Homo sapiens: one gene and its partner. The protein of the gene in region 2 interacts with the protein of the main gene of each other region in a pairwise test. Each region holds a gene or a part of one and is shown on either strand. Other genes may lie near its edges. The genes, in order: TOM1L1 and MAP3K3.

Region 1 (3,822 bases), 8.7 Mb from region 2:
GGGAAGGGACCTTCTGACTAAGTTTGGAGCCACAATTTCTCTAAATCAGGACAGAATAGAGGTGTTCTGAGCCCATGGCACTGCCATGCTGGCCCTAGTTCCTGGGGAAGTTCCAGACTTGGGGCCTCATATGACTCCTTGGCTAATGCGGTACTAGATAATTGTATAGCATTAGACTGCCTCTTAGCAGAACAGGGAGGAGGAGAGTGTGCAGTTATTAATTCCTCTTGCTGTACCTGAATAAATACCTCAGGGGAAATAGGAAGTTAACATTAGGAAGGTCCATGCCCAAGCCTCTTGGTTCCACACTTTTAATCAGCAGCCATATTTTTTTTTTTTTTTTTTTTTTGAGACAGTCTCGCTCTGTTGCCCAGGTTGGAATGCAGTGGGGCACGATCTGGGCTCACTGCAACCTCTACCTCCTGGGTTCTAGCGATTTTTCTGCCTCACCTTCCTGAGTAGCTGGGACTACAGGTGCGCACCACCACACCTGCCTAATTTTTGTATTTTTAGTAGAGACGGGGTTTCACCATGTTGCCCAGGCTGATCTTGAATTCAGGGTGATCTGCGCGCCTTGGCCTCGCAAAGTGCTGGGATTACAGGGGTGAGCCACCACATCAGGCCTAATAGCCATACTTCTAATTCTGTTTGAGAAGTTCTCAAATTAGCAATACCAAGTGTTACTTGGTTTCTTCCCCTAATGAGGCCACTAATTTTATTGCTCTTACTACTGTTGTTTGGTCCCTGCATCTTTAACCTCTTCGTAAAATTTGTATCTTCCAGATTAGAAAAATTTCAACTGTAGGTGCCTTTGCAACCTATCCTGGGAGACCCTAAAACATATTTAGTTTTAGTGCCTAGAGATTTTCACTCCTCTAACATCTCTGGATACAGTGTCCCTGGTCAACATGAAGAAGTTACAGAAGAACGCTTTCTGATCCTGGCCCCTAAAGAATTTACTTGTGCTAAGTAATAAAATTCCTATTGATCAAAACCTGTGTCCTTGTGGAGAGTCAGATATCTGTTACTATCCAGGTGAATGAACCCTGGGTTTTTTGGGTGGTAACAGGACCTGAGGGGCTGCAGAGCCTACCTGTGTAAAGGAGATAGCTACTACTCAACCCCAGCCCATAGCTAGCACGTAAAAATTCAGGCTTCGTGTTGACAGAGTATCTAAATGATCTAGAAGTCCAGAATTTTTATTTTCAAATATCCGAGTTTTCAGCTGTTGGCAACTGTGGTCTTATGATACATACTGGTTTTTGTCTAAGGTTCCTGGCTCACAACTCCCATAGCCCTTGTTACAGTCTTTTGTTATAATGTTGGGTGTGTCAGGCCTTAGGAGCCAGCCTCTGGAAGCAGAATCTCTCGACCTTCTCTAGTCCTCCTTTCACCTGCCCCAAGGCACCACTCTAATCGCCCACCTTTGTCACTGTGGGTCATAAGAGCCTCCCTAGAGAGGGTCCTGCCCTATACCCTGGGGGAAGGAATGCTGACATCAAGAAGCTTCCATTAAAAACCCTAGAGGACTGGGTTGGGGTTGGGTCAGGTCAGTTTCTGGATAGCTGAACACGTGGAGGTACCTGGAGGGTGGGACTCCAGGGAGGGCACGGAAACTCCATGGCCTTTTCCGCATGCCTCGCCCTGTGCATCTCTTCATCTGCATCCTTTGCAATGTCCTTTATAATAAACCAGTAAATATAAGTATTTCCCTGAGTTCTGTGAGCTGCTCCAGCAAACTAATCAAACCCAAAGAAGCAGTCATGGGAACCCCAACTTGAAGCCAGTCAGTCCTAAGTTTAGAGGCCCAGGCTTGTGACTGGTGTCTGGGAAGGTAGGTGTCGGGGTGGTGGGGACTGAGCTCTCAACCTGTGGGGTCTGACACTATCTCCAGGTAGATGGTGTTGGAATTGAATCAGAGGACACCCAGCTGGTGTCCATTGTAGAATTCATTGCTTGCCTGCTGATGGGGAGAAATCCTCACATATTTGGGGGCCACAGAAGTCTCTGCATTCATTGTTATATTAGAGTGAGAGCTGAGGAAAAACATGGTTGAGAGTTTCCCAAACCAGCAATTAATTTTTTAAATGCACATTTTAAATTCTGCACAGGTCAAAAACAAACAACTGCAAGCAAGATAGAGCCTGTAGGCTGTCAGTTTCTGAACAATGATTTCCAATAAACGTGCTTTAATAATTTTTAACAATTTGGGGGTAACCTTCAGTCACTCAAAGTATATTAAAGTTCTTATGACCTTACCATTCCATTAATATTTATATATCTTGACCAATATGAAATCATAAAAGAATGTTGCTTTAAGGATTTTAAGTAAAAAGTAATTGTACTAATGCTTTAGAAGACTAAAAACAAGTTCTAATATAAGATTTTTTTGGATCAGTTCATAAAGAGCAGCTAAAATATTCCATCAATGTGGCATAAACTTATGTCACCAATCAGTGACTAGTACCCTTCTCAAGCTAAAGAGAACATGACTTTCTGCCAAGGGATCTATGAGGAGTCCATTAAGCAGGTTAGTTCCAGTTATTTCTTAACATGCAACCCCAGCATTTTTATTTTTTAGTCACAAGGCCGGAACGATAAGACCATTAAGAGTAACAGCTGCCATAAAACCTCATAAGGCATTTTTAATAAGGCCATCAATTTCTGCCAAGACCTAAACAAAGTTAAATGTATAACCAAGCCCTGTTAGCTCTGCTATCAAAGGGAACCAAGACAAAAAATAAATTAATCATTTTGTAAATGACTTACTCTGTAGTGACAGCAGGAGCTAAGGGATCAAACTCCATTACCTCGTAGTAATTAGGTGGCTGGAGATCACTTTTTGTCATCGCTTTGGGCAAAAAAAGAGACCAGTAAACATATTGTGCTTTTTGAGGAGTACACGCAATTGATATTCTTTTTATAATTTAGACTTCAAATATTAGATCCTAATAAACACAACCAAAACAGACTGGTGTCCCAATGCTACTCCCAAGTTCAACAAATCTGTATGTATCAAAAAGGTTTCCAAACCTCAACTAAAGATTCATTTACCTTAGCATTCAAAACACAATACTCAGTTTAACACAAGCATTTTTACAGTCTCTTATAAGTCAGTCATAATGGTATCTGCCCTGAATTTGTTTCATTAGCTTAAAAATACAAAAGAGCATCTCTAATTTCTCCTATTTTCAGTTACCAATGAATCTCTGGCAGACTCATATATTCTCATAAGTTTCCTTATTTGATGCGAATAATAAGGTCCCATGTACCTGGATGATTGCTGGGCAAAGGTGGCAGACTCTGGTTTGATGGTGCTGCTGCAATGGTTTGTAGACTAACTGGCTGTAGAAACACTGAATTTGAATGTTCCAGAAACTGAAGAAAGCATAACACATGTTCATATAAACGTTCTACATTAAGCTTTTCTTTTATTACTGAGACTCCTACACTTGCAAGTACATTGTTCCAAGAACTTTGAACTGGACAAGAATAAGTTGTTTTTAATTATTACTTTAGTTTTTTTAGGTAATAATCACTTACGAGATTTACTACTTTTCTGCTGGGCATGGTGGCTCATGCCTGTTATCTCAGCAATTTGGGAGGATAGGTGGGAGGATTACTTGAGCCCAGGAGTTCAAGATCAGCCTAGGCAACAGCAAGACCCCAACTCTACAAAAAAAAAAAAAAAATAGCTGGGCATGGTGGCTCACACCTGTAGTCCCAGCTACCCCAGAGACCAAGGCAGGAGGATCACGAGCCTAGGGGTTTGAAGCTGCAGTGAGTTATGATCATATGATCATGCTATATATTCTAGCCTAG
Region 2 (3,822 bases):
AGCTAGCCAAAATGCTTAGCTTCTTTCAACTGGGACTCTGTAATTTGAATCTGTAATCCAATTAGACATTTCTTAACCAAATTTGGCAACTCTTCACCATTTAAATTAGGTTTTGATCTTTCATTCCTCTCTCTTCCTAAGCATGGACTTTCTGGCAGAAGAACTGGTAATGAAGAAAACTGTTTCATTCTATCTCAGGCCTAGGCTAACAAAAACTACAATAATAATAATAAATGTGTAACTCTGTGAATTATAAAATCCGATGTTAAATGATTATTAATATCACCAGGCTCCTTTCATTATACTAGGCTATAAATACCTCTCCCCAACATCTTCCCCGCACTACCTCTTACCCTATCTTTCCTAGAAATGCATTTGCTGAGACTTTGTCTTTTTCTGCTTTCAGAATTTTGCTGAAGAATATCCCTCTTGGTCAGAAGCAAAACATCTGCTACACTTCCCAGGACAGGCCATTCTATAACCTTGACTTCATTAAGAGGAAAAGCTATCTTAGCATTTTATTTCCCCTTTTGCCCATATTAACATAAAACTTTGAGCTTCAATTTCTAAACAGCTGTTCTAGTTCCACATCTTCACATTCTTCCTAAAACAGAAATCTTAGGTAGGATTCCCATTATTAGCTTATCACAATGTACAGAAACTCATGACGTGTGTAAGGAATGAACATACCAATGAATATCTACACATCTCCAAGCATATACATAATTTCTTGCCCAATAAATCAACAGTCCCTTACATAGTGCATAAAGTCATGCTGTCCAATACAATAGCCACTAGCCACATGTGGCTGTCTAAATTAATTAAAATGATATAAAATTTAAAATTTAGTTCCTTAGTTGCTCAACAGCCACATGTAGCTAGTGGCTACAAAACCACATTGGACAGCAGAGATATAAAACATTTCTGTCATCACAGAAGGTTTATTGGACAGCACTGATAGAGGCTGTTTATGAATAATACTGTTGTGAGAAATGGTGACTAGAAGCACTGAACACAGGTCACGGGTAACCAATGCTTTTTACAAATCCACTAAAACAACTTGTCTGGGAAGTGAATTCTGCTGTTGCAGCATGAGTAGCAGATTTAAAAGTACATTTTGGCTTTAACAGGTAATCTGGATCCTTACCAAAAATTTCTTTTTCTCACTGGCCCCTGCACATGAGCTTGTTGTTACTGTGGGGCTGTTCAGAAGGGCTGAGCTGCTGCTGTTGTGTTTTTTCTTTAAAAACAAAAAAACTGAGGTTAATAATTTGTATCCTTCGTGCAACATAAGTTTGACAACATTGAAGTAAATCATGGATCCAAAGATCTAGTACCTCTTGTTAAGATTACTTCCTAACAGTCAATCCTTTTTAGGCTTCTGCCTTCATAACCACTGACTTCACTCTACCAGCGCAGCAGCAGGCACAGCAAAAGATCAAGACTTCCCTCATCATGGCTTTTAGGCTCTAAGCAGAAGGAGTCCTAAAAAGGAATCCTCCTTCAAGGAACCATCAGTGACCATTCCGCCCCTCCTTTTCCCAGCCTCGTCCTTTTGGGCCTTCCAATTCAAGAAAGCTTCCCCTTTTCACCCACTAACTGATATTCATGCTAATAGTCCAGTCTGGAGAAAGATCAGCTAACTGGAGCAATGTTAGCAAGCACACACTACATAGGAAGACAGGAAGGAAAGTGAGGTCATTAGGCTCAAGCAAGGGGGAGGGGACTCACTTCTGGTAAAATGCTCCTTCGAAAAGTGGCTTTGAATACAAATGAGTTATAGCAAGGGAGAACTCACACAGTCAGACTGAATAACATATGAAAATAGTGTAAGAATGGGCCCTTATCTGTTTATACCTCCAGTACTATAAGGTAACAACAACAAAAGCAGCTTTTTAAACTAATCCTTCTGTTTTAACATGAAACAAAAGGACTCCTCTTCCCTTGGGGTCCCTAGGATTCCTAAAGGCAGGAAATACTCTGGAAGGCTCTATCTAGCAGACCACAGACAGGAAAAGTTTTAGGGCCTTATACTATCTCTAGGAACCAATTCTGAAGAATTGGTAAACAAGGTGCAAATGAGAAGAAAGGAGGTTAGCTGATAACAAACAGAACCAAAAGGGAGAATGTCATACACAAATTTTCATCAAACATGCCCAATATAGCTAGCTGACACAGCACTGGATACCCACTAGGTAGGAAAGCTCCCCATCATTCACTCCTCTCTGCAGAACAAAGTACCCAGGAAACAGGTAAGTGGCACTACAGGTGAGAAGAAGATTGTCAATGACACACAAGTTTAAATGTTAAGGAAAATAGGCAATGTTTTCCTAAAGAAGCATACAACTCTCAATAAAACAGGCACTATCAATAAGGTTAATAAGGTAAAATAACTGTAAACAGTAATAACAAAATCACTCATTATTGCCTTCAGAATATACTAGGTGACATTTTAATTAATAAATTTACCTTCTTAATTATATTTTACATAAGCTAATACCAAATTAATTAGTTTTTCCTGACTATATACTGTAAGGTAGCTAAAAACCTTCTGACTTAGGGATCATGAATCTGAATTAAATATTTGCCAAATATCAGTAAAGGGGAAAAACGAATATGAATACTGTCCCCATAACAGATGAAATGCTTACACAAGGCTTTAAGACTCCAAATCATAGATCCATAACTGCATGGCATATATAACTTTTTTTTTTTTTTTGAGACAGAGTTTCACTCTGTCTTGCCCAGGCTGGAGTGCAGTGGTGCTATCTCGGCTCACTGCAGCCTTTGCCTTCCAGGTTCAAGCGATTCTCCTGTCTCAGCTTCCTGAGTAGCTGGGACTACAGGCATGGACCACCACACCTGGCTAATTTTGTGTTTTTTAGTAGGGACAGGGTTTCACCATGTTGGCCAGGCTGGTCTCAAACTACTGACTTCAGGTGATCCGCCTGCCTCGGCCTCCCAATATCACTTACCATTTAACCATACCTGGTTGGTATGTATTACTTCCCATTTAACAGACTGTGAAAGGAAGGGGTCAAAAGCATTCAACCCTGGTAATGTAGTCTCCTTGGCTTTTCGTATATTTCCCATTTGAAAACCCCTCCCCAACAAATCTCACTTAGCTCTGCCAGGGTCACACACACCTGCCTATTTGAGTGACCTGTGTCTTTGTTCTTCATGGTCTCATATCCAGGCATCCGGTGACGTCGGTTCATCTGGAGGGCCACCAGATCGTTCATGATTGAGTTCAATGCCTCCTGTTCGTCTGCAATGAAAGAGAGCACATGGACTAAGACACTTAAATACAGACCAGCAAAGCTCTTTCACAAACTGTATAACTAATACTCAGGGAGTTCTGCCCAGGTAAAATGACAGACCCTGTAACTATAATCAGATGCAGCCCAAAAGGTCAGACTATGGCAATTTGAATTTTAATGGATTCTTTTTTTTCTTCGAGACAAGGTCTTGCTCTGTCACTCAGGCTGGAGTGCAGTGGCGTGATCATAGCTCACTGCAGCCTCCAACTCTGGGGCTCAAGTGACCTTCCCACATCAGCCTCCTGAGTAGCTGGGAACACAGGCATGCACCACCATGCCTGGATGATTTTTTTATTTTTTGTAGAGACGGGGTCTCCCCATGTTGCCCAGGCTGGTCTCCAACTCCTGGACTCCAGTGATCCTCCTGCCTCGGCCTCCCAAAGTGCTAAGATTACATACAGGTGTGGGCCACCATGCCTGGCCTTTAATGGTTTCTTAATAGCCCTCCAATCAGATTTCCTGCAGCAATATTTACCAATTCATTGCAGGGAAGGGACACGCT

The links.
Region 1: the proteins of MAP3K3 (region 2) and TOM1L1 interact in a two-hybrid assay, tested with the Homo sapiens proteins (one large-scale study listed by BioGRID and IntAct).

Annotation. Positions count from the first base shown.
Region 1 is NC_000017.11:54,949,074-54,952,895, reverse strand, and holds part of TOM1L1 (TOM1-like protein 1), read right to left. Parts: intron 3,379-3,822; coding exon 3,273-3,378; intron 2,852-3,272; coding exon 2,770-2,851; intron 995-2,769; exon of another isoform or gene 1-994. UniProt on the Homo sapiens protein: Probable adapter protein involved in signaling pathways. Interacts with the SH2 and SH3 domains of various signaling proteins when it is phosphorylated. May promote FYN activation, possibly by disrupting intramolecular SH3-dependent interactions.
Region 2 is NC_000017.11:63,632,127-63,635,948, reverse strand, and holds part of MAP3K3 (mitogen-activated protein kinase kinase kinase 3), read right to left. Parts: intron 3,269-3,822; coding exon 3,147-3,268; intron 1,241-3,146; coding exon of another isoform or gene 1,148-1,240; intron 1-1,147. UniProt on the Homo sapiens protein: Component of a protein kinase signal transduction cascade. Mediates activation of the NF-kappa-B, AP1 and DDIT3 transcriptional regulators.